Linked DNA regions of Homo sapiens. The protein of the gene in region 1 purifies or fractionates together with the protein of each later gene. This does not show direct contact. Each region holds a gene or a part of one and is shown in the gene's direction. Other genes may lie near its edges.

Region 1 (3,198 bases):
GTGACCTTGCCTCACCCATCCTCGCTGTCATGGACCATGAGGGCCATGCCTTTGTTTGCTTTTGTGGCATCATGAAACGCCTGGCCGCCAACTTCCACCCTGACGGCCGCGCCATGGCCACCAAGTTTGCACACTTGAAGCTGTTGCTGCGACACGCTGACCCTGACTTTTATCAATACCTGCAAGAGGCAGGCGCTGATGACCTCTTCTTCTGTTACCGCTGGCTGCTGCTGGAACTCAAGCGTGAGTTCGCCTTCGACGATGCCCTCCGCATGCTTGAGGTCACTTGGAGTTCGCTGCCCCCTGATCCTCCTGAACATGAGGTAGAGCTGGTTGGACCCCCCAGCCAAGTGGCAGACGCTGGTTTTGGTGGCCACAGGGGGTGGCCCGTGCGACAGAGGCACATGCTGAGGCCTGCTGGTGGAGGAGGTAGTACCTTTGAAGATGCTGTTGACCACCTGGCCACAGCCAGTCAGGGGCCTGGTGGTGGGGGGCGTCTCCTGAGACAGGCCAGCTTGGATGGCCTCCAGCAACTCAGGGATAACATGGGCTCCAGGAGGGACCCTCTGGTCCAGCTGCCCCACCCAGCTGCCCTTATCAGCTCCAAGTCCCTCTCTGAGCCTTTATTGAACTCCCCAGACCCACTGCTCTCCTCCTTTTCCCACCCTGATTCCCCATCTTCCTCATCTCCACCATCCACCCAGGAGGCCTCTCCCACTGGTGATATGGCTGTAGGATCCCCCTTGATGCAAGAGGTAGGCTCCCCGAAAGACCCTGGAAAGTCCCTGCCACCTGTACCACCAATGGGCCTGCCCCCACCCCAGGAGTTTGGCCGGGGGAACCCATTCATGCTGTTCCTCTGCCTGGCCATCCTGCTGGAGCACCGCGACCACATCATGCGCAATGGGCTGGATTATAATGAGCTGGCCATGCACTTTGACCGCCTTGTGCGAAAACACCACCTGGGGCGCGTCCTGCGCCGGGCTAGGGCTCTCTTTGCTGATTACCTGCAGTCAGAGGTGTGGGACTCAGAGGAGGGGGCTGAGGCCACAGCCGCATCTTGATCAGGCTTTCTCAAGCCCTCCATCGGCCCCACCAGATCTCCATTCTTTGCCATGAGGGCCAACACATGAGACCCCACCTCCCTCCCTGCCTGCCAGCCCTAGACTTGTTGGAGCATAGAGCCCTTCCTCCCCAGGCCTAAGTATGTGGAGCTCTGCTTTGGCACTGCCCCGCAGAGGCCACGCCTATTTATTCTGTTTCTGTTGTTTTGTTTTTAACAACTATACTTTGCACACATGAAGGTCACTGTGGTTTGTGTGTTTCTCTGCCTCCTCCCTGGGTTTTGCTGTAGATGGAGTCCTCAGGGGCCCTTTACCTGATGGAGGGGAAATACTTCACTTGGTGGAGAGAGGCTCCAGCTTCCCCCTTGTGATGGGGAGAGTGGATGCTGACAATCAGTTCCCAAAGGTGAGCCCAGGTGGAGCACTGCTTGAGGAAGGCCTGAGTCTGTTTTTTTGGTACATCCATCGGCCTGTAAGGGTCTGTATTATGGCTGTGAATATATGTTTTCAGGACAGCCCCCTGGATGAGAGATAAGAGAGTTCCTGGCTCAAAAAAGGACAAGATTCTTTACTGAGATTGGGAAGTATGGGCTACTTAGAAACGTTGGAGCAGCCACCCCTGGCATTCCACATGTCACCATTTCTAGGATCTTGGCCTCTCTGTGAGGTTTATGCACCAATGCTGGCAGCCCTGGGCAGGGGCCTCGGCCTCCTTTTTGTTTTCCACTTCAGACAGGTACCGTGCAGATGTTAACAAGGTTTGAGCGAGGTGCATCTCACACAAGTGTGAAAGCCCAATCATCACATTGTTGAATTACAAAAGGATCTAGGGCTCCTATTCTTGTCACTTGCTTTGGAGCCAGTTTGAAAGACTGGCCTAGCCCATGCCTAGCGGCCCTAAACTGGGATTCCAGCTCACAGCACCTGTCTTAACCATTTCAGCAGTAGAAACCACTTATTTACCTTCTCCATCTCACTAATATGGACAAACAACAAGCACTGATAAAACGCAGGCCCTAATAGAATTCACTTCGTTATTTGGAGGATAATGATCAAAAAAAGGTCCTTTTTCCCACTGACATGCTCAGAGGGTGGGATTCTCTCACAGGCCAGGTGCTGTCATCCACAAAGGATGGGTGAAATAACTGGGGTCCTCAGGTCACGGTCTAGCCACACCAGCTTCTCCCAAGTACTAACCAGGCTTGACCCTGCTTAGCTTCAGAGGTCAGACAAGATCTGGCATGTTCAGGATGGTATGGCTGTAGACCAGGCTGGGTTCTGGCCAGAGCTGTTGCACTAGGCAATGCTGCCAGAGATGAGGAGGCATCAGGGCAGTCATCCCTTCTGCTGTTTGCCCCAAGAATGCCATACAAACCTGGGGATGACCCTTAAAAGTCTCCCGTCACCCCCAGTATTGGGGGGAAGCTGACTATTCCTCAGATGATAGCCCAGTCACTTGAAGAACAGGACAAGACTATTCTGTGTCTAGGGGGCTCAAGCACTGTGTGTGGGTCTAACGAATGCATTTTGTGGAAATGGGCTCAGACTCCCCAAAGGGCCATCCAACCTATGGGAGTGTCTGGCCTTCTGAGGTCCTGAAATGTCTCTTTTGTCAGTAAACAGCTAATACCCTCTGGGATGCATTCTGTGATTTATGAGCTCAGGTGTTTGAAGGACCAGACAAGCCAATTCTGTGGATAGTAGTTTGGGACCTCTGAGAGATAGAAGAGTCCTTTCTGTGAATAGGAGGCTCAGATACCCTGAAAGGCAGAAACCTCTAATATTCCTCTAGGATACTTGGGGTTTCTGGTTCCTGCAAAGATGGCAGACAGCACAAGCTACTGATTCCTTTGCCCGAAACCAACTCTGGAGAAACTAGAGAGGGAAACATGGGTTCCAGAAATTGCAACATAGCAATGAGAGACCCATGGGGAAATGGAAGGCTGTCTTTAACTGGTGTGTGTTTTGACGGGCGGATGGCCAGAGGCAGTAAATAGAGGATAGGTTAGGGAAAAAGATATTTAAGTTCTGGCTCTCACCTCTCCCCTATATTGCCTTGGGGAGGTCCTTGTTTGCCCCCTTCATTGCATTAATCATCCAAACCACTGGTACACATGTCTGGGGGACTAGGATC
Region 2 (3,500 bases), on another chromosome or scaffold:
AATAAATAATTGGATTTCATTATAATTAAGAACTTCTGGCTGGGAGCTGTGGCTCACACCTGTAATCTCAGCACTTTGGGAGGCCGAGGCAGGTGGATCACGAGGTCAAGAGATTGAGACCATCCTGGCCAACATGGTGAAACCCCGTCTCTACTAAAAATACACAAATTAGCTGGATGTGGTGGTGCGTGCCTATAGTCCTAGCTACCTGGGAGGCTGAAGCAGGAGAATCGCTTGAACCCGGGAGGCGGAGGTTGCATTAAGAAAGCAAAAAGAGGCCGGACGCGGTGGCCCACACCTGTAATCCCAGCACTTTGGGAGGCTGAGGTGGGTGGATCACCTGAGGTTGGGAGTTCGAGACCAGCCTGACCAACATAGAGAAACCCTGTCTCTACTAAAAATACAAAAATTAGCCGGGCGTGGTGGCGCATGCCTGTAATCTCAGCTACTTGGGAAGCTGAGGCAGGAGAATCACTTGAACCCGGGAGGTGGAGGTTGCGGTGTGCTGAGATGGCGCCATTGCACTTCAGCCTGGGCCACAAGAGCGAAACTCTGTCTCCAAAAAAAAAAAAAAAAAAGGAAAAAAAAAGAAAGCAAAAAGAGGTCGGGCGCAGTGGCTCATGACTGTAATTCCAGCACTTTAGGAGGCGGAGGTGGGTGGATCACTTGAGGTCAGGAGTTCGAGACCAGCCTGGCCAACATGGCAAAACCCCATCTCTACTAAAAACACAAAAATTAGCTGGGTTTAGTGGCAGGTGTGTGTAATCCCAGCTACTTGGGAGGTTGAGACAGGAGAATCTCTTGAACCTGGGAGGCAGAGGTTGCAGTGAGCCAAGATAGCACCACTGCACTCCAGCCTGGGTGACAGAGCGAGACTGTGTTTCAAAAAAAAAAAAGAAGGAGAAAGCAAAAAGAAAAAAGTGGGAGAAGATATTTTCAGTACTGTACATATATACAGTAGTGAAACTTGTATCCAGCGTATATAAATACCCTTACAAACCCTTACAAAATGAACATGATAGACAGCTCAATTTTAAAAAATGGCAAAAGAGGGCTGGGCGCGGTGGCTCATGCCTATAATCCTAGCACTTTGGGAGGCTGTGGCGGGCAGATTGCTTGAGGTCAGGAGTTCGAGACAAGCCTGGCCAGCATAGCGAAACCCTGTCTCTATTAAAAATACAAAAATTAGCTGGGCATGGTGGTGTGTTCCTGTAATCCCAGTTACTCGGGAGGCTGAGGCAGGAGAATCACTTGAACCTGGGAGGCAGAGGTTGCAGTGAGCTGAGATTGTGCCACTGCACTCCAGCCCGATGACAGAGGGAGACTCCATCTCAAAAAAAAAAAAAAAAAGCAAAATACATGAATAAGCATGCCACAAAAAAATCCATATATGTCCAAGGAGTATGTTAAATGATGCTCAACTTAATTAGTTATTTGGGAAAAGCAAATTAAACAATGCAACACCATTACATACCTGCCAGAATGGAAAAGATGAAAAAGAAAGTGCCAGATATTGACAAGGATCTCTTGCAAACTACAGATAGGAGTCTAAATTGGTACAATGACTTTGGAAAACCATTTGGCAGAATCTGTTAAAGCTAAATATATGAATGCTCTGTGACTCTATAGTTATACCCCTAAGTATGGAACCAGAAAAGTGTACATATGCATGTAGATATACATGCTCAAGTCTTATGTTCTTAGCAGTAGTTTTTTTTTTTCTTGAGACAGGGTCTTGCTCTGTTGCCCAGACTGAAGTGTGCAGTGGTGATCACAGCTCACTGCAGCCTCAAACTCCTGGGCTGAAGCAATCCTTCCACCTCAGCCTCCTGAGTAGCTAGGACTACAAGGGTACACCACCACGCCTGGCTGATTTTTCAATTTTTTGTAGAGATGAGGTCTCATTATGTTGCCTAGGCTGGTCTTGAACTCCTGGCATCAAGTGATCCTCCTGTCTTGGCCTCCCAAAGTGCTAGGATTACTGGCATAAGCCACCATGCCTGGCCTAGCAGCACTATTTTTGGTGGTCAAAAACTGGAAACAGGCCGGGTGTGGTGGTTCATACCTGTAATTCCAGCATTTTGGGAGGCTGAGGCAGGCAGATCACGTGAGCCCAAGAGTTCAAGACCAGACTAGGCAACATGACGAAACTCCCATCTCTATTAAAAATGCAGAAAATTAGCCAGCATGGTGGTGCGTGCCTATAGTCCCAGCTACCCATGAGGCTGAGATGGGAGGATCACCTGAGCCTGGGAGGTTGAGGCTACAGTGAACAGAGATGGTACCACTGCACTCCAACCTGGGGGACCAGAACGAGACCCTGTCTCAAGAAACACAAAACAAAACTGCAAACAGCTCAAATGTCCATCTTCTGTAGACAAGTAAATTTTGCTGTGTTTATACAATAGAATATTATCCAGCAATGCAAATGAACAAACTATAACTACACACAGCTGCATGGATAAATGTCAGAAACATGACGTTGAGTGTGAGAAGCCAGATGCAAACGAGGACTCACTGTGCAATTCTGTGCATGTACAGTGGCCAGGTGAGGCTTATGGAGTGCTGAAATGCTCTGTATCCCAATCTGGAGGGTGGTTTTAAAAAAATGTTTTGAGCCAGTGCGTTGGTTCACACCTGTAATTCCAGCACTTTGGGAGGCCAAGGTGGGCAGGTCACTTGAGGTCAGGAGTTCGAGACCAGCCTGGCCAACATGGTAAAACCCTGTCTCTACTAAAAATACAAAAATTAGCTGGGCATGGTGGCACACACCTGTAATCCCAGCTATTTACAAGGCTGAGGCACAGAGCAGGGCTCTGTCTCAAAAAAAAAAATCATAAATAAAAAATAAAATTTAAAAAATACTTGATTTTAATTTTTTTAGAGATGGGGGTCTCGCTGTGTCACTCAGGCTGGTCTTGAACTCTTGGGCTCAAGCAATCCTCTCACCTTGGCCTCCCAAAGTGCTGGGATTTCAGGTATAAACCACCACGCCTGGCCCTGGAGGGTGGTTATACTTGTGTAGTAAAAACTCATGAAACCTTACACTTATGATTTGTGGTAGACTTTTCTGTATTAATGTTATATATATATATATTTTTTTTTCTTTTTTAACCTTTTTTTGGTAGAGACGGGCCCTGCTAAGTTGCCCAGGCTGGTCTTGAACTCCTGTGCTCAAGTAATCCTCCCTCCCTGGCCTCCCAAAGTGCTAGGATTACAGGTGTGAGCCACTGCTCCCAGCCTAAATAAAAAGTTTGCTTCTCCCCTCCTTTTCTCCCCAAAAACCAGGGTGTTATCAGGAAATCTACTTAACTAGGCCTAGGTGAATTGCAATAGGTTGCATTATGCTAAAAGCAAATGTACAGGTTGGGGGGGTGTTGTTGTCAGCTCCGCCATGTCGTGGACCTGCCCCCTTTTCAGGACACCTCACGTCACCTTCCATAACAGAACAGGTAACGTGACATATGAGGTGCACTGTTGACAAGTGACACTGGTGACAA
Region 3 (3,500 bases), on another chromosome or scaffold:
TGGCCCCTAGATATCTAGGGCGTTTTAGATTCCATCAGTGCTACAAGGCTGGCAAGACAGAAGCCAGTTCCTAGGGCAGCTCTTAGAAAAGTTGGAATGTTAGATACACAAGCCAAGTTTTTCCTTCCCCAAGGAGTGGTGGGGAGCTGCAGGTGTTCTTATGATCATATGGTGCTGTATTGGGGGTACATAATTGCTCTCGCAGATTATGGCAAGAGGGTGTCTCCAGTCTTCTACCAGGTTTGATGTTGTTCATTTCGTACTTGTGCAGGTGCAGAAGCATTGCACCTAGTTTCAGGATTTCTCACAAAGGGAATTCGTATATTATCGTTGAATCAGTGTGTTCATGTGGGGAAGGAGGGTTTAGGGCGTCCTATTCTTCCATCTTGCTGATGTCAACCTGTTACTTATTTTTCCTAAATTGGAAAAATGTAAATAAAATACTCATTTTGGAAACAAAATTATCTGACTTTAGTGGCTCTTTGAACTGGGTTTGAGAAGTACAGACAAACTCAACACTCTTATCTTAACATTAAAGTAGATATCTCAAGTCCCCTTTTAATACTTTTAGCTTGGAATACTTTCTAGTCTGTAGGGATAATTAATTTCTTTTTCTATTTCTGCATATCAAATATTGCTTTAAAGATTCCCTTCAGCTGTGTTACTTAGAGATTGAATAGGGAAATATTTTGTCTTTTGATTAACAGTTTTAGGCTAAAAAAATTAGATAAGTATGCCTTTGGTTTGTGTAGCAGACAAACTTCATGTTAGATAATTCGTGAATTTGTAGTCCATTCAAATGTTTATCTTCCAGTTTTCAGAGGGGTTTTTTGTTTGTGTTAGAATTCTTTCAAGTCATTTTATATTTTTATGAATTATTTGAGAAGAATACTTGTTAATCTCAGCCTGTATTTTTATTGTGAATGTGATTACCTATTATTGAGGGGCATAGTCCTCTGGGTGTTTCTAATTCAGCATCAAATAATTATTTCTTTATAGATACATATGTTACATACATATTTTACACATAAGCACACACACATCTTGCATATATAGATATGTATTTATATGTGTATAAACATGAATAATATTTATGTTTGTTATATACATTTATCTTGTATATTCCTGTTTATATACATATAAACATGTATATCCATATCTGTGCAGTAGTGTATAAAGTACCTTGAATTCTTTTCAACTTAGAATACTCAGAGGTCTTAAGGAATTATATTTCTTTAAATATTGAATAAGATTTACTTGAATTTAAAATTTTTTATTTTGCTAACATTTGGAAATGCTTTAATGGTATTTGTTAAGAAATGATGTAGCATGGTTGTTGACTAGCATGCAGTGTTCTATTAATATATTTGCCTTTTGGGGTTTCACAATTACACTATTATAAATCTTTTTGAGAGTACATTTTAGTCAGTATAGTATATATATTTTTTCTTAGTTTTAATCAAAAATAAAATCATTGGGAAATATAACCACTTGTTTTCCAGTTACTTATTATAGAAAGAATAAGTTAAGAAATGTGAATAAATTGAACAAATTAATAAAATATTTGTTAATAATCCACCTTATGGAGGATTTAAAAATAATTTTAATTATAAAATAATGTATTTTAATATAGTTCAGAAATAAAAGTGTTGCTCCCTCTCCACTATCAGATACCTCAGGTACATTCTTAGGGTAGTTAACAGCTTCTTAAATAGCTTCTCAGATATGTTCTGTGCATATACAAGTATATACGTATGAGTATGTATATGAGTGTATGATGGAATTGTACATACACAAGATCTACATATATTCTTTTAAAAAGTACTAATGTACTTTTATATTGTACTTTTATAAGGTATTGTGTTTTATAAGGTATATGAATTAAATATATTGTCCATATACATTGAGAAAATTGGGTAAATTGATGTGCATAATAAACATGTCATCTCTTTATGTTTATTTGAAGTTTTTTTCTGATTGTTCTAGTGGCATAGAAGTAAAGTTTCTTTAATACAGTTTAATAACATTATATTTTAAAACTTTATGAAAACAGAATTTTTAATTTGTGTAAAAGATTTTACCCTTAATACATGTTCTTAATATCCATCATACTGAAAATAGTGGGCTATCTTTGGTTAGCAGGGTTATTGTGAATGTTGTATATGGGAAGGGCAGGCATTCTGTTATTTCAGTACTGTGATACCATGTTGTTTGAGGTGGGTCTTTTTCTAAGCAATGGGCATGTTCTACTTTTATTAAAGTGATGATAGAAAATGACTTTAAAGCATGTAGTGACATAAAGTTGTTAGGAGATATAACTAATGCTAAATGACGAGTTAATGGGTACAGCACACCAACATGGCACATGTATACGTATGTAACAAACCTGCACGTTGTGCACATGTACCCTAAAACTTAAAGTATAATTATAATAGAATTAAAAAAAAATAAAGTAGTAGTTTTTAAAAAATCCTCAAAACTGAGCTCATTGTGTGGTTTTACTAATTTTGGTTTTAGGCTTGTGCAGACATAAGAGCCAGTTCAGTGTTTTGGCAGCAAATGGAGTTCGTTGATAGCCTGCATGGCCAACCCAAGATGCCAGAATGGTTATCTACACACCCTTCTCATGGCAATCGAGTTGAGTACTTGGATAGACTTATACCTCAGGTGAGCTGACACCGTAGAAGGCGGGACATTATTTTTACTGTATCATTTATTTTTAATGCTGTCACTTCTTTTGCTTAGTAAAAGAGAGTTCTAGCCTATTAACTATTTTGATTACTATAATTATGGATTATCAGTTGTCACAGAATTTGACTGAAAAGCAAAATTCTGCTTGTCCACAAGTCTTGGAGAATAAATTACTATGTACAGTTGACTTTTCTTAATAGTGAAGGTTTAACTCCTTTAGTATGAGACTTTAATTTTAACTGACTTGATGAAAGTTTAAAACTCAAGGCATATTAAGTTTTTTAAACATGTTGATGATAATTTAATCTTTCCTTGGTGATTTAAGCTTTTTGTTAAAAATACCAGTTAATGAGTTGTACAGAAGTTTTGGGTCAAGTGGATATTAATTGTAGTAGTGGTACTGGAATTTGTTTTTTTAGGAAAAAAAATCTTCATGTTTGTTTCTGGTTATTTATTTCTTTATGAAGATAAGAGTGAAGCATTTGCTCTCTGGCTTTTCTTTCTGTAGAATTCATAAGTGGGTCAAGCTGAGGCGGCTTTCTGCCAAGTAGTTTTCAGTATCCTCTGAAAATCTTTTGATTTGTTGACATCATTCAGAATGTTTTTATGGTTTCCATATCAGGACAAAATGGATGTTAGGCATCTCTGAGCCACGTTACACGCTCTCTTCTATCTCACTTGTATTAAATTTGGTGGCTTGTTATGAAAGCGGAACATTTTTTAGCAATTTAAGAATTGGTACTGGGCCATGTGCTAAGGCATAGCACAACAGATCCAGGTGTATTATAGAAGTATCTTTCTCATGCCTG
Region 4 (3,500 bases), on another chromosome or scaffold:
TCTTCAATTTTATTTGAAAGATGCATACTCTCTGATGATGCCATTTCTATTCCAAGAGTTCAGAAGAAACCGATTTTTTTATTGTTTCCCTAATACTAAGTATAATTGCATAATTTGTTCACTTTTAATTTGGAAAGAGCGATCTTCGATGTGTTAGAATCATTTCCAGTCATGTCAAACTTTACTAAAATCTTGGGAAATGATATAAAACACTCAACCTCTCTATTTCTATATCAACAACTTCCTTTGTTGTTTTAGGAGAAACTTACTTTTTTTCCTTTTGAGGTTAAAAATAATAAGTTATTACAAATGTTCATATGATCCTTTTCTTAGGCCCAATTTTAGGAATATATAGTCAGAAGAAATGACTGGAACAGGCTTTCTTATATCAATCTTGCTTAAAGGAATGGGAGAAGGAAAATATTTTTCTTAGAAATAGATTATCAGAATAAAATACCAAAAGGACCAAGGAATAGCTCAGTTTAAAAATATGATTTTAAAGCGTTGTTGCTATTACATAAAGATTCTCATACTATTACTCAGATTCCAATTTTCATTTTAAAATTATGCTTTTAATCTGGTTGCATAATGCCTCACACTTAGGCCAACAAATACTAGTTAAGTTTTATTGAAATTTAATTCATTTCTTTTATGGCATGCATCTTCTGATATTTTCAATGTAAGCTGTCTGCTTATAGCCATCATATCTAAAATGGAGAACACATTTGTGTTCTCACAGAATGTATGCTTGTTCTGAAAGATGATGTGGTTACAGTAACCTCCCTTGAAAACAGTTAGTAGGTATTTAAAATGTCTTACACAGAATATTACAGTAAACCTATTTTTTTTCATGGAGTTTTGGTCAGTTTCCTGTCTGGTAAAAAAAAAGTTAATAGTGTTAGCTTTTGGGATTTTGGGAGGTTTGTTTTTGGCCTAGAAAAAAAATTATGTTGTGTAAATCCTAAATGCGGTAGAATGAAAAAATATACTCGTATTAAGCAGAAATGTGTGTTGTTTCTCATGGAAAAATAAGCAGCTATTTTGTATCTGAGGTACATCTTTGTCTTTGAGAAAGTATATTTTATTCTGATGTTGTGAGACTGAGAAATACTGACGTGGCTCTCTTTGATCTTTGTCTCTCAGTGTGGCTGTTACCAGGTCCAGAGATGTGCCTTCCTTTGGGCCTCCCATTCCTAAAGGGGTCACTTTCCCTAAGTCAAATGTGTTCAGGGACTTCCTTTTGGCGAAAGTGATTAATGCAGAAAATGCTGCTCATAAATCGGAGAAGTTTCGGGCCATGGCAACTCGGACCCGCCAGGAATACCTGAAAGATCTGGCAGAAAAGAATGTCACCAACACCCCTATCGACCCTTCTGGCAAGTTTCCGTTCATCTCTCTGGCTTCCAAGAAGAAGGAAAAGTCTAAGCCATATCCAGGAGCCGAGCTCAGCAGCATGGGGGCCATTGTATGGGCAGTCCGGGCTGAAGACTACAACAAGGCCATGGAACTAGACTGCCTTTTAGGGATCTCCAATGAGTTCATTGTGCTCATTGAACAGGAAACAAAGAGCGTGGTCTTCAATTGTTCCTGTAGAGATGTGATAGGGTGGACTTCAACTGACACCAGCCTCAAAATCTTCTATGAACGAGGAGAATGTGTTTCAGTGGGTAGTTTTATTAACATTGAGGAGATCAAAGAGATTGTCAAAAGGTTGCAGGTGAGTCTCTCCTTCCTCTTCCTTACATGCAGTTTCTCTTTCATAAAGTTTTCAATACAGACTAGAGCCAAGTTACTGAACCTTGTGCTCTGTTATTAGCTCCTCTGAAAACTCCCTTGATGTGTGAAGCAAACAGAGTTTATCTCATGCTTGTGTTTTCCATGGATGTTTCGGAAAAGTAGAACAAATTGGGGAAGACACATTTACTCTGTGTGTGTGTGTGTGTGTGTGTGTGTGTGTGTGTGTGTGTGCGTTCATGTTCAAAACCCATTTGCATGTGACCTGTTCCCTGGTGCTGCAGTCCAGTCATCTGGTGGTGGTGTTGAAAAGAATTGCTTGAGTATCTGCTGCCTTGAATTTTACAAAGGCTAAATGAGTAGCAGTATATGGTTTCTATTTACTGCCAGCTCCCTGTAGGTCTCTGGTAGAGGTTTCCTTGTAACTTCAGGGAAGCCGTTGAGCTTTTTGGATGCAACAAGTATATTCCTTTTGGCCTAATGAATAGGAGATTAGTGAAGAGGAAATAACCAGACTGCTCTTCAGCTGGCAATAAGGTATTCAGAACTAACCCTGCTTGCAATGATTTTCCAGTTCCATGTCCACCACTTAATACCCTATTGCTTTAAACCACAGTATCTTTTATTTCCTTGTCTAGTTTGTTTCAAAAGGCTGTGAATCGGTGGAGATGACTCTGCGAAGAAATGGGCTAGGACAGCTTGGCTTCCATGTCAACTATGAGGGCATTGTGGCGGATGTGGAGCCCTACGGTTATGCCTGGCAGGCAGGGCTGAGGCAGGGCAGTCGCCTGGTGGAGATCTGCAAGGTGGCGGTAGCCACTCTGAGCCATGAGCAGATGATCGACCTCCTGAGAACATCTGTCACGGTGAAGGTTGTCATCATTCCCCCGCATGATGACTGCACCCCGCGGAGGTAGGTCTGAGGAGACAGCTGTGGGCCTGAGACTCGAGTGCAGGGTTTGTGTACCATGTAGAACATCTCTTAGCAGGTAGTGGAGTAGGGTGTTGTGAAGAACAATAGGTTACATGTGATGCTGAATGTTTCATCCATGGAGTCTGACTCAGGACGAAGCTCCCTTTCAGTGTGTGGTGACAGCAGCTGGAAAGAGTGACTAAATGGGACCATTCCCAGGATTTACATCACTGGATTTATAAAGTTGCCATGACAGATAGAGAAGTCTGGTAATATCTATCTTAAGAATTTTCCACTGGGAGCTGAGAAACATTGAACACATTGAACATTAAAAGACACTCAACATCTCAAATTGTCAGATTGCTTTTCTTCTATGTTCCATGATGCTCTTATTCTCTTCTCTCTCCTAATTGCTGCCCAAAACTCAGCAATTGTTTGGACCTTTGCTGTCTCAGTCTGGCAGCTGCTTTCCTAACTGTATCTGCATGTGCTAGGGTTTGGCTTCAGGTGAGCTGCCCCTGCTCATGGTGCTTTGGCATTTTGGTTCCTAGTCTTTTCCAGAAGGGAAAACCTAAGAGCTCCCTGCCCCACCCAACCCCCCACAGCTCCTGCCAAGCCAGCAGCACTGTTGAAAATTTAATTTCTCTGTCTCTGGGGAGGTTTATTGGTGGAAGAAATTTAATCAACTGTTTATTTTCTCCTTTGGACATGCACATGCTATTTTTGCTAGTTTTTAAGATCTCTCTTTTTAGTTTATGCCATTATTTTCTAAGAATTTCTCTTAAGCTTTGGCAATTGATTCTTAGGCTTTCTAAAGCCAAGACAGTGTTCTGTGTCCTATTTTGCCACTAAG
Region 5 (3,500 bases), on another chromosome or scaffold:
TCATTTTGGTGAGTTATTTGTCTTATAAACTCTGGGTGCTTCTGAGACACCAGTGCCTGTTTTTGGAATGATTTCATAAAACTTTCCAAGTTGAAGAGAGCCTGAGGGGAGGGTGAGGTTCAAATACGAGTTGTGAGGGTGGTAAGAGATGATGACAGCTACCATCTATTGAGTGTTTATCATCCGAAAGGCAGGGCTGACCACATGGCCTGCCACCCATGCAGTGCCACGGGGTCCACACTTGGTTTGATGCTGTGCTGTCACCATCTTGAAAATCTTAATTCTTTTTGAACTGGGGACCTTACATTTTCATTTTGCACTGGGTTTCACAAATTACGTAGCTGGTCCTGCTGAAAGACATTGTGTCTAGTGCTTTACAAATATTATGCCATTTAACCCTTGTAATGACCCAGTGAAATGAGCCATTTTTATTACTTTTATTTTACATATAAGAAAAATGAGGCTTCGTGAGTTTAAGCCACTTGGCTCAGTTCCCACAGCTATTTAGTGATAGAACCAGGATTCAAACCCATGTTTGCCTGCCTGCAAGTACTTGCCTATCAGGCTGTCTGAGTGAAGAATCCTGACTTAAAGAGAAGGAACTGAATAAGAGGTTGGGAGAGAGTGATTGGAATATAGGAACTGCTGAGCCTGAAAGCAGCTAATGTTTAAATGAGGCTGACAGTGGCAGCCACCAAACCTTCCTAGTGAGATCACTTTTGTTGCTCTTACTAGGGATTTAGTTACTACATGCATGATTGCTAATGCTCTGTTTTAGCAAACCTGTCACATACTTGATTTAAACAATTTAGAATGTTCAAGTTACCCAAGGCTGAGATTATGATGTTTCTCAGGAGCCTTCTGTTAACCGTTAGGAGCAATGTTTTTTTTCATTTGGTTAGTTATGAAGACATCTTGGTCTACAAGGACAAAGGCAGACAGGTTCAGAGTCTACAAAATAATGAAGCATATGGATAGGGCAAAGATGGACTGATCATTAGATCCTGAATTGCTAAAGCTCTGGGCTTCCTCTTGAAGCTTAAAAAATTGTTTCCATACAGATGATGAAATGTTATTTTAATTCAGTGAGTACTGATTTTAGGAAAGCTGTTGCTTCAAGATGGAATACAGGCTAAAATTGGTTCAGAAAAGATGGCAAATCTAGAAATCAGGAGAATATCTCTTGGGGTTCGGTACCACCGTGAGAAGAAACCTTGCCTCTTTCCCCAGACCTGCCTGTATGTTGGACATTTCTGCCATTTGTATTGTATTCCTATAAAATTCTCTGAAAATTACTTTCTGGGAATTGTCTGTGCTTTTGTAATTTCTATTTTATTTTATTTTATTTTATTTTATTTTTGAGATGGGTCTTGTTCTGACACCCAGACTAGAGTGCAGTTGCTCAATCATGGCTCACTGCAGGCTTAACCTTCCAGGCTCAAGTGATCCTCCCACCTCAGCCTCCAGAGTAGCTGGGAGTATCAGTGTGTGCCACCATGCCTGGCTAATTTTTTTCTTCTTTTTTTTTGGTAGAAACGGGATCTCAGTATGTTGCCCAGGCTGGTCTCCAACTCCTGGGTTTAAGGGACCCTCTTGCCTTGGCCTCCCAAAGTGCTGGGATTACAGGTGTGAGCCACTGTGCTCAGCCCCCTTTTGCAATTTAAAGAGCAAAATAATCTATAAATTTTAAAATGTATTTTATATATGTATAAACTGTATCTGGAAGGATGCTCAAGAAGTGGATAATTTTTGGGAAAGCAGCTTGGGGAAGTGGAAGTCAAGAGATGAAGGGAAGCATGTCTACACACTATACCTGTTGGTACTATTCAGATTTTTACCTCGTCACTATGTCTAGAAAATGGAAGAAATACAACTTGTAGGCACCATGTAAAACTGGACTAGAGGTAATTTTCAACCAAGTGTTCTTGGGGGAAAAAGGGAGCTTCAGTACTATATAGAAACTCAACACCACTCAAGGTCAGTGGAGGCGTTGGATGAAGAACAGGGGAAGTGGGAAGGCCCCATGGAAAGAGGCTTTAGGGGGAGAGGTTGGCAGGTGGTTTGCCCATGATAAACATCAAGATCTTGATAATGTTCTCCTTTCTTCTATCTCAGTTTAGCCATCTGGAAAATAAAACAATTTTTGCAATTTTCGCCATGATTATATCCTTTTAAAAAAGTGTATCATAAAAACTAAGTCTTTGTGAAAGTAACAACAGAAGTTCTGCTTGTTTAAAATGCAGAATTCCTATAAAGCCAAGTTATTTGTAAAATCATTTGGTGGTTATGCTAATACAGTTTTATATCTGGTTGGTTCTTCAAGTGAAACCACTGGTCCCAGACAGTGGTAGGTAGGGAGTTGGGGGAATATTCGACCTGCCTGGTGTCCAGATGGAAAGGCCATCTGGCTTCCATGTCTTACTGAGTGCTGAAAAGGAGTTGGCTGATCTCACAGACTGTGTGGTTTCCTGTTCCTCCCGCCTGGCCCGGAGAGTGATATGATTTCAATGCGATATTGAAGCTTTTGGTTTGATGTTCCACTTTGGAGTTAACTCCTAGGGTTGGCCCCAGGCCAGGTTCTGAAGGGGCACCCGGGTCCTCATTGGCTGAGAATGTTATTACTTATGGTCACATGACCTCCACAAGCTGAATAAATGTAGTGAGTTCTAACGGGAGACAGAATTGGGAAGTAAGTATAATTTTTCCAGACCCTTGTGGCACCTTTCAACATTCTCGCCCCTTTTGTGTTCCCCTCCTTTCTTAGACATCAAGTGTTCACTGTAATGTTCTCTTTCCAATTTCATCCCTTCAAATTTTGCTGTCAGGAAAGATTTGATAAGCTTTCACTAGAAATTTTAGTGTTAGTAAGATTTAACATGTTAACCCTAAATGGGCATTTATATTTAACAATAATTACTTCAGGTCAAAAGGGTGAATCTCCACTTGGAGAACCTAGGGCGATAGCCAGGTAGTAGTGGGCGAATATTTGGGGAATGGGAGAGGAACCCTCACTGCCCTCCATTATTTCATAATGTGGCTCTTATTCATAAGGCAGCCTTGTTTATGTGTTGCTAATTTGTCTATGATCTAGAGGATTTCCCTTGGCTTAGCAAAAAATCTTTGACGGATTATTTTACTGTCTCTGAAATTGTTCTCATGATAGTAACATTGGTTGGGAGGTGGTAGACATAGGCACAGTCCTGAAAGATGAGAGGGCAGTACAGAGTTTTATATTTGCCCTCCTTCTCGAATGATCCCTGAGTTACAGTGTTCATGGGAAACAGGGGTCTCTGATGTGACATTGCTTTTGCAGGAGTTATAAGATATAGCATCTAGATTAATAATTGAATTAATTACAGTGCTTGCAGCTAGAAGTAACTGAAAATGGATTCAGATCGGCTCATACAGTAAGTAAATTATCTCATGTTGCAAGAGGTTGTGAAATAGAGCCCCTGGCCGGGCGCGGTGGCTGACGCCTGTAATCCCAGCACTTTGGGGGG
Region 6 (3,500 bases), on another chromosome or scaffold:
CTGCAAGACAGAGAAGCTATGGATGATAAACCAGGTGTGAGTGGTCAGCTTCCAAAAGGAAAAGCTCTAGAGCTGGCTTTGAAGAGACCACGGCCACCTGTTTTGTCTGTTTGTAGCTCATCAGAGACTCCCTATCTATTAAAAGAAACTAACAAAGGAAATGGTCAAGGTGAAGATAGAAACTTGTTGTACTATTCAAAGTTAGGCTTAGTGATCCCATCCAGTGGATCTGGTTCTGGAAACCAAAGCATTGACAGGAGTGGCCCACTTGTTAAGAGTCTCCTCAGACGGTCATTGTCGATGGATAGCCAGGTTCCTGTCTATTCACCTTCCATAGATTTGAAATCTTCCCAGGGATCATCTTCGGTGTCCAGTGATGCACCAGGGAATGTGTTGTGTGCTTTATCTCAGAAGTCATCTTTAAAAGATTGTAGTGAAAAAACAGCCCTAGATGACAGGCCTCAAGTGCTACAACCGCATCGCCTCAGGTCCTTTAGTGCTTCTCAGTCAACAGACAGGGAGGGAGCTTCCCCTGTGACTGAGGTGCGCATAAAGACTGAGCCCAGCAGCCCGCTGTCGGACCCCTCGGACATCATCCGCGTCACTGTGGGAGATGCGGCAACAACAGCAGCTGCCTCATCTTCGTCGGTCACAAGAGACCTGTCTCTGAAAACAGAAGATGACCAAAAAGACATGAGCAGACTCCCAGCAAAAAGGAGGTTCCAAGCGGACCGAAGATTGCCGTTTAAGAAGTTAAAGGTGAATGAGCACGGGTCTCCTGTGTCAGAAGATAATTTTGAGGAAGGCTCAAGCCCTACTCTCCTTGATGCAGATTTTCCAGATTCTGATTTGAATAAAGACGAATTTGGTGAGTTGGAGGGGACGAGACCAAACAAAAAATTTAAATGCAAACATTGCCTTAAGATCTTTAGATCAACAGCAGGTCTTCACCGTCATGTTAACATGTACCATAACCCAGAAAAGCCCTACGCTTGTGACATCTGTCACAAGAGGTTTCACACCAACTTCAAAGTGTGGACACACTGTCAGACCCAACACGGCATAGTGAAGAACCCATCACCAGCCTCTAGTTCACATGCTGTTTTGGATGAAAAATTCCAAAGAAAGCTGATTGACATAGTGAGAGAGAGAGAAATTAAGAAGGCCCTGATCATTAAGTTAAGGCGCGGCAAGCCTGGTTTTCAGGGACAGAGTAGCTCCCAAGCACAGCAAGTCATCAAGAGGAACTTGAGATCTCGAGCCAAAGGAGCTTACATTTGTACTTACTGCGGAAAAGCGTACCGCTTTCTCTCTCAATTTAAGCAGCATATAAAAATGCATCCAGGAGAAAAACCCCTTGGAGTAAATAAAGTTGCTAAACCAAAAGAGCATGCTCCTCTTGCAAGTCCAGTAGAAAACAAGGAGGTTTACCAGTGCCGCCTCTGTAATGCTAAGCTCTCTTCTCTCCTAGAGCAAGGAAGCCACGAGCGGCTGTGCCGGAACGCGGCCGTCTGCCCTTACTGCAGCCTCAGGTTTTTCTCGCCCGAGCTGAAGCAAGAACACGAGAGCAAGTGTGAGTATAAGAAGCTGACCTGCCTCGAGTGCATGCGCACCTTCAAGTCCTCTTTCAGCATCTGGCGGCACCAGGTTGAAGTCCATAATCAGAACAACATGGCACCCACCGAAAACTTTTCTTTGCCCGTTTTGGACCACAATGGTGATGTGACTGGTTCTTCAAGGCCCCAATCCCAGCCTGAGCCCAACAAAGTAAACCACATCGTCACCACAAAAGACGACAACGTGTTCAGTGATTCTTCAGAACAAGTTAACTTCGACTCGGAAGATTCCTCTTGTCTTCCCGAAGACCTTAGTCTTTCCAAGCAACTGAAAATCCAAGTCAAAGAGGAGCCTGTGGAGGAGGCTGAAGAAGAGGCACCCGAGGCCAGCACAGCCCCCAAAGAAGCGGGTCCTAGCAAAGAAGCCAGCCTGTGGCCCTGCGAGAAGTGTGGGAAGATGTTCACGGTGCATAAGCAGCTGGAGCGTCACCAGGAGCTTCTGTGCTCTGTGAAACCATTTATTTGTCACGTGTGCAACAAAGCTTTTCGCACTAATTTTCGACTCTGGAGTCACTTCCAATCGCACATGTCTCAGGCTTCAGAGGAATCGGCACATAAGGAATCTGAGGTGTGCCCTGTTCCCACAAACTCTCCCTCTCCACCACCTCTGCCACCGCCACCACCACTGCCCAAGATCCAGCCTCTGGAGCCTGACAGCCCCACAGGCCTGTCCGAAAACCCAACTCCAGCCACAGAAAAACTGTTTGTGCCCCAAGAATCAGACACCCTTTTTTACCATGCCCCACCCCTTTCAGCAATCACATTTAAAAGACAGTTTATGTGTAAACTTTGCCACAGGACATTCAAGACTGCATTTAGTCTTTGGAGTCACGAACAAACACACAATTGAAAGACCAACACTTTTTACCTATGGGAGGCAGTCCCCAGATTTCAACCTGAATTGTGAAATGTGTCATAAGAAACAAAATATTTTTTAAACAAGAATAATAAAGGTTGGAGATTGTTACGCTTGAAATTAAGTTGGAGGCAAATTGATAATTACTTAGTAATGTCCTTAACTTTAGAAATACAGCTTTTAAAATATTGTGGTTCTGGACCTTACAAGAACAAGATGGTTTGATTTCATTAATGTTGAAATTGGATTAGTCTTGATTGTGTGCATGGTTCCTCATTCCATGGTGTCAGTATAATCATTTAATTGAGGTTTTTGGTTTTTTATTGATTAGTGGAATACTGTCGAAGTATTCCTTCTTTTAATTATTTTAGACACTTGAGTTCTAGTTAAATCTTAACCATGTTCTTAAGTCCAAAATAGGAAGAAGTGGAGTAGTTTGCAGTATTGATTTATATCTTAGACTACTTTAGCAATAAAAGATAAATCTCAACTTTAATAAGTTATCCTGACACTTGATAAAAATAAATATTTGGTATTTTGTGGTCATGTAAAACTTCTTTTTGTATGAAAATTGTGAGAAATTTAAATCAGCAATAGTAACACTTAGATTTTTATAAACTAACAAAAACTTGCTCTCAGTCAATATAATAAATGATAGTTAAACTCTAAGGAAGACCTGGGAAATGAAAACAATTTATGGAAGTCCCCTACAGTCAGTTTATAAGGGCTTCAGTAGTGATAGACATTGTTATAAAAACTTGTACCATGTTACATGTACACTGCACCACAGTCTAAATTCAGACCAGCATTTGAAGGACTGCACATATTTCATTTCCTCTGATTTATGCTGTCACAAATTGAAAATCTGAGTGTAGTTAGGACAAAAAACAAAGCTAACCATATGGCACTAATTTTGATTTTAACATTAGTGTAACAAATAAGGTCGGGACATATATTTACATAGATCCCAGACACTCAAGAATTAGCACAGCTGATGTAAAATTCTAAATTACCATTTACTTCCAGAT
Region 7 (3,500 bases), on another chromosome or scaffold:
ATACAGAACCATTCTTAGTGTTTTTCTTTGAGATTGGTATAAACTCTTCTAAGAATATTAATTTTTTGTCCTGTGGTCAAATATTTAACCAGTTTGCCTTTTAATTTTGTATATAGTATATTATTACTTATCTATAGATTTTTTTTTTTTTGAGACAGTGTGTCACTCAGTCACCCAGGCTGGAGTGCAGTGGCACAATCTCGGCTCACTCTAGCCTCCTCCTCCAGGGTTCAAGTGATTCTCATGCCTCAGCCTCCCAAGTAGCTGGGATTACAGGCACATGCCACCACGCCTAGCTAATTTTTGTATTTTTAGTAGAGACAGGGTTTCTCCATATTGGCCAGGCTGGTCTTGAACTCCTGACCCAGGTAATCTGCCCGCCTCGGCCTTCCAAAGTGTTACAATTACAGGCGTGAGCCACCACACCCAGCCTGGATTTTTAAATTTGAGATTTCTTCTGGTGCTGTGATGTTTAGAAGGCCTTCACCATCCAGAGATTGGTTAAATACTCACTTTCATTTCCTTCTGATTTTTACCGTTTTACACTTTATATTTAATTCTTTAATTTGTATTGAACTTACTTTGAAGTACCAAACCAATATGTTTAATGCCTTTGTATATCTGAGTTCCAGATCTGTATTTCCAGCTACCTGTTAGGCTATGTGGATAGTCCCTGTACGCCATGCATCTGCGTACACCCAGATTCACTAAGGAGAAAGCTTGAGGTTGTACTTACCACTTTAATACTTTTCTCCACCCACATTTGATCAATCCCCAAGTTTGGCTGATTCTGCCCCAGGGGTGATAAGAGTTCTTTAATCAGTCTTCTAATTCAGATTCCCCTTTTAGTTTTTTGCCAGAGTCCTTGAGTCCTTGAGTAATCCTTAGAGTTGGCTTCAGTTTTTCCCTTGCAGAAAAGTTATCAGAGTTGTCATAAAAAAAAAAAGCACTGATTTTCAAAATATGGTTCCTTTAATTGCCTGTGTTAGAATTACCTGGCAGTGGTTAAAAAGGTAGAGTCTCAGGTCCCACCTAGACCTGCAGATCAGTGTGTCTGAGGGATGGGCCTGGGAACCTGAAGTTTATCAAGTACCTCAAGAGATTTATATACAAACTTAAGGGGAGACAATGCCTAAGTAAATTCAGTCTAGCTTTCTGACATGCTCTTCAAGACACCCACACCCCCACTCTGACAGCCTATTCTTTTAGGCTTATCTCCCACAACACGACCCACCCACCTGGCACTGTGACCCTACAATAATTCTCTGTTTCCTGGACCTGCCCAGTTCTTTCCTGCCTCTGTGCCTTTGCTCATGCAGTTACCACAGCCTCATGCTCCTCCCCTTCCCCACCCTCTTGTTGAAATCCTTTTCCTTAAGAGCCCAAATCAAATGCTACCTTTTTAAATTTTTTTAATAAAAAAAAGCCTTTTCTAATTTCTTCTACTTGAATCAGTGGCTGCCTCCCCAGTCTTTATACTTAACACTTGATTTTTGCTTCATTTCTTACCTTACTTAATGTTGTCACTATTTATAAATTATTGCTTCCTTGTAAGATTACAAGCCTTTTAGGTATGAGAACCTTTCCCTTCCTTTTCATTTTGTGGCCATTATGCACATATAAACAATTAAGAACTCATTTTATTTTATTATTTTGAGACACAGTTTCATTCTGTCCCAGGTTGGAGTGCAATGGCGCAATCTCAGCTCACTGCAACCCCCACCTCCTGGGTTCAGGTGATTCTCATGCCTCAGACCTCCGGAGTAGCTGGGACTACAGGCACGCGCCACCACGCCTGGCTAATTTTGTTTTTTTTTTGTATTATTAGTAGAGACAGGGTTTCACCATGTTGGCCAGGCTGGTCTAGAACTCCTGGCCTCAAGTGATCTGCCCACCTCAGCTTCCCAAAGTGCTGGGATTATAGGCATGAGCCACCGCACCTGGCCAAAGTACTCATTTAGTACATGAAATATATCTGATCTTGCAAACACACTTTTATATAATAATGTTTGGCTTTGTATCACACATAGAATAAAATTAAAATCCTTTAGCATTGTTATTAATCCGTATTTAATCTGACTACTACTCATCTCTGTGTCATCGCATGCTTCTCACTTACTTCCTAGCTGTATTATTCCTTCCTCAGGGCCTTTGCATTTGCTTTCCTCTACCTGGAAAACTCCCCCATCTATTGTCTTCACCTTGCTGGCTGCATATGTTCTCCCCATCATTCAGGTTTCAGTTCAAATGTCATTCACTCAATGAGGCCTTCCCTGATCACTGCCTAAAGAAGCTGTTCGTGTCCCTGTTCCTACCACAACTCCAGTTACTCTTTTTGTATTTCCTTCACACCACTAATCACAGTCTTTAATTGTCCGGCTTCTCCAGTGGAATGGAAATTTCATGAGAGTAGAGACCATGTCTGTCTTTTTTTTTTTTGAGATGGAGCCTCACTCTGTCACCCAGGGTGGAGTGGAATGGCACGATCTTGACTCACTGCAACCTCCAACTCCCAGGTTCAAGAGTCTCCTGCTTCAGCCTCCCAAGTAGCTGGGACTCCAGGCACCTGCCACCACACCCAGCTAAATTTTTTATTTTTGGTAGCGACAGGATTTCACCATGTTGGCCAGGATGGTCTGCATCTCTCGACCTCATTATCCGCCTGCCTTGGCCTCTCAAAGTGCTGGGATTACAGGCGTGAGCCATCGCGCTCGGCCTTGTCTGTCATTTTTAACATTATATCTTCAGCACTTGGAATACTGCCAAAGACTTGGTAAATGCTAAATAAATATTTGTTGAATGAATGAATAAGCCTTGAAGATGGACTTTTCATTTGGACAAGTCTTGTTTTGTTTTGCAATCCAAAGTGTTGTATTTTTTTTAACTGGACAACAGCTGAGGTCGGTCCATCTGGGTTCAAATCAGGTAGCAGTCTCTGAGGAGTTCGGAAGGTAGCAGGACAAAAGTTTGGATACTGTGACAACCAGGATTAAGTTCCATCTGAGTGCAAGTTTTCTAAGGTGTTTCCAGGATCCAGGCCACTATTTTCCTACCACTATAGCCATCTACTTCCCAGATTGTTACTCTGGATTATACTAGTCTATCAACTCCTATTACATTTTCAAAAGCCAGTGTGGCAAAACTAAAACCCAATTACTGGAATCCACAAACAACCAGAAGTTTTCTTCTGTTTTCATTCTCTAGGAGAAAAATTAGAAAGCTATCTAGAATCTTCAAGAAAAAATGAAATGATTTTCATTATACTTACTATTAACACATGCTCTGAAATGTGTTACTGTTTAGACACACTGTTTAGACAGTGTACTGATTAGAAAGATTTTCAGCAACAGCTTTAAACAAAAGGTTTCTTATTAACATCTAGTTGAACCAGACATTATAATGAATTAGTTCTAATTTCTATTTCTTTTCATTGGTTAGTCTTTTTTAATTCCATTTTTTTTCTTAATGCTGGCTTGAAGTTTTATTTAAAATAATGCTTT

What was found.
Region 2: the proteins of TBC1D25 (region 1) and CBY1 purify together in Homo sapiens (affinity purification with mass spectrometry, with the first as the bait; one large-scale study listed by BioGRID). This does not show direct contact.
Region 3: the proteins of TBC1D25 (region 1) and OMA1 purify together in Homo sapiens (affinity purification with mass spectrometry; one large-scale study listed by BioGRID and IntAct). This does not show direct contact.
Region 4: the proteins of TBC1D25 (region 1) and SIPA1L1 purify together in Homo sapiens (affinity purification with mass spectrometry, with the first as the bait; one large-scale study listed by BioGRID). This does not show direct contact.
Region 5: the proteins of TBC1D25 (region 1) and CREB3L2 purify together in Homo sapiens (co-immunoprecipitation; one large-scale study listed by IntAct). This does not show direct contact.
Region 6: the proteins of TBC1D25 (region 1) and ZBTB21 purify together in Homo sapiens (affinity purification with mass spectrometry, with the first as the bait; one large-scale study listed by BioGRID). This does not show direct contact.
Region 7: the proteins of TBC1D25 (region 1) and LIMA1 purify together in Homo sapiens (affinity purification with mass spectrometry, with the first as the bait; one large-scale study listed by BioGRID). This does not show direct contact.

Annotation. Positions count from the first base shown.
Region 1 is NC_000023.11:48,559,912-48,563,109, forward strand, and holds the end of TBC1D25 (TBC1 domain family member 25), read left to right. Parts: coding exon 1-1,064; 3' UTR 1,065-2,698; downstream 2,699-3,198. UniProt on the Homo sapiens protein: Acts as a GTPase-activating protein specific for RAB33B. Involved in the regulation of autophagosome maturation, the process in which autophagosomes fuse with endosomes and lysosomes.
Region 2 is NC_000022.11:38,663,138-38,666,637, forward strand, and holds part of CBY1 (protein chibby homolog 1), read left to right. Parts: intron 1-2,408; exon of another isoform or gene 2,409-2,548; intron 2,549-3,500. UniProt on the Homo sapiens protein: Inhibits the Wnt/Wingless pathway by binding to CTNNB1/beta-catenin and inhibiting beta-catenin-mediated transcriptional activation through competition with TCF/LEF transcription factors.
Region 3 is NC_000001.11:58,505,227-58,508,726, reverse strand, and holds part of OMA1 (metalloendopeptidase OMA1, mitochondrial precursor), read left to right. Parts: intron 1-2,517; coding exon 2,518-2,667; intron 2,668-3,500. UniProt on the Homo sapiens protein: Metalloprotease that is part of the quality control system in the inner membrane of mitochondria. Activated in response to various mitochondrial stress, leading to the proteolytic cleavage of target proteins, such as OPA1, UQCC3 and DELE1.
Region 4 is NC_000014.9:71,669,976-71,673,475, forward strand, and holds part of SIPA1L1 (signal-induced proliferation-associated 1-like protein 1), read left to right. Parts: intron 1-1,143; coding exon 1,144-1,717; intron 1,718-2,372; coding exon 2,373-2,647; intron 2,648-3,500.
Region 5 is NC_000007.14:137,995,587-137,999,086, reverse strand, and holds part of CREB3L2 (cyclic AMP-responsive element-binding protein 3-like protein 2), read left to right. Parts: intron 1-3,500. UniProt on the Homo sapiens protein: Transcription factor involved in unfolded protein response (UPR).
Region 6 is NC_000021.9:41,989,861-41,993,360, reverse strand, and holds part of ZBTB21 (zinc finger and BTB domain-containing protein 21), read left to right. Parts: coding exon 1-2,466; 3' UTR 2,467-3,500. UniProt on the Homo sapiens protein: Acts as a transcription repressor.
Region 7 is NC_000012.12:50,273,521-50,277,020, reverse strand, and holds part of LIMA1 (LIM domain and actin-binding protein 1), read left to right. Parts: intron 1-3,500. UniProt on the Homo sapiens protein: Actin-binding protein involved in actin cytoskeleton regulation and dynamics. Increases the number and size of actin stress fibers and inhibits membrane ruffling. Inhibits actin filament depolymerization.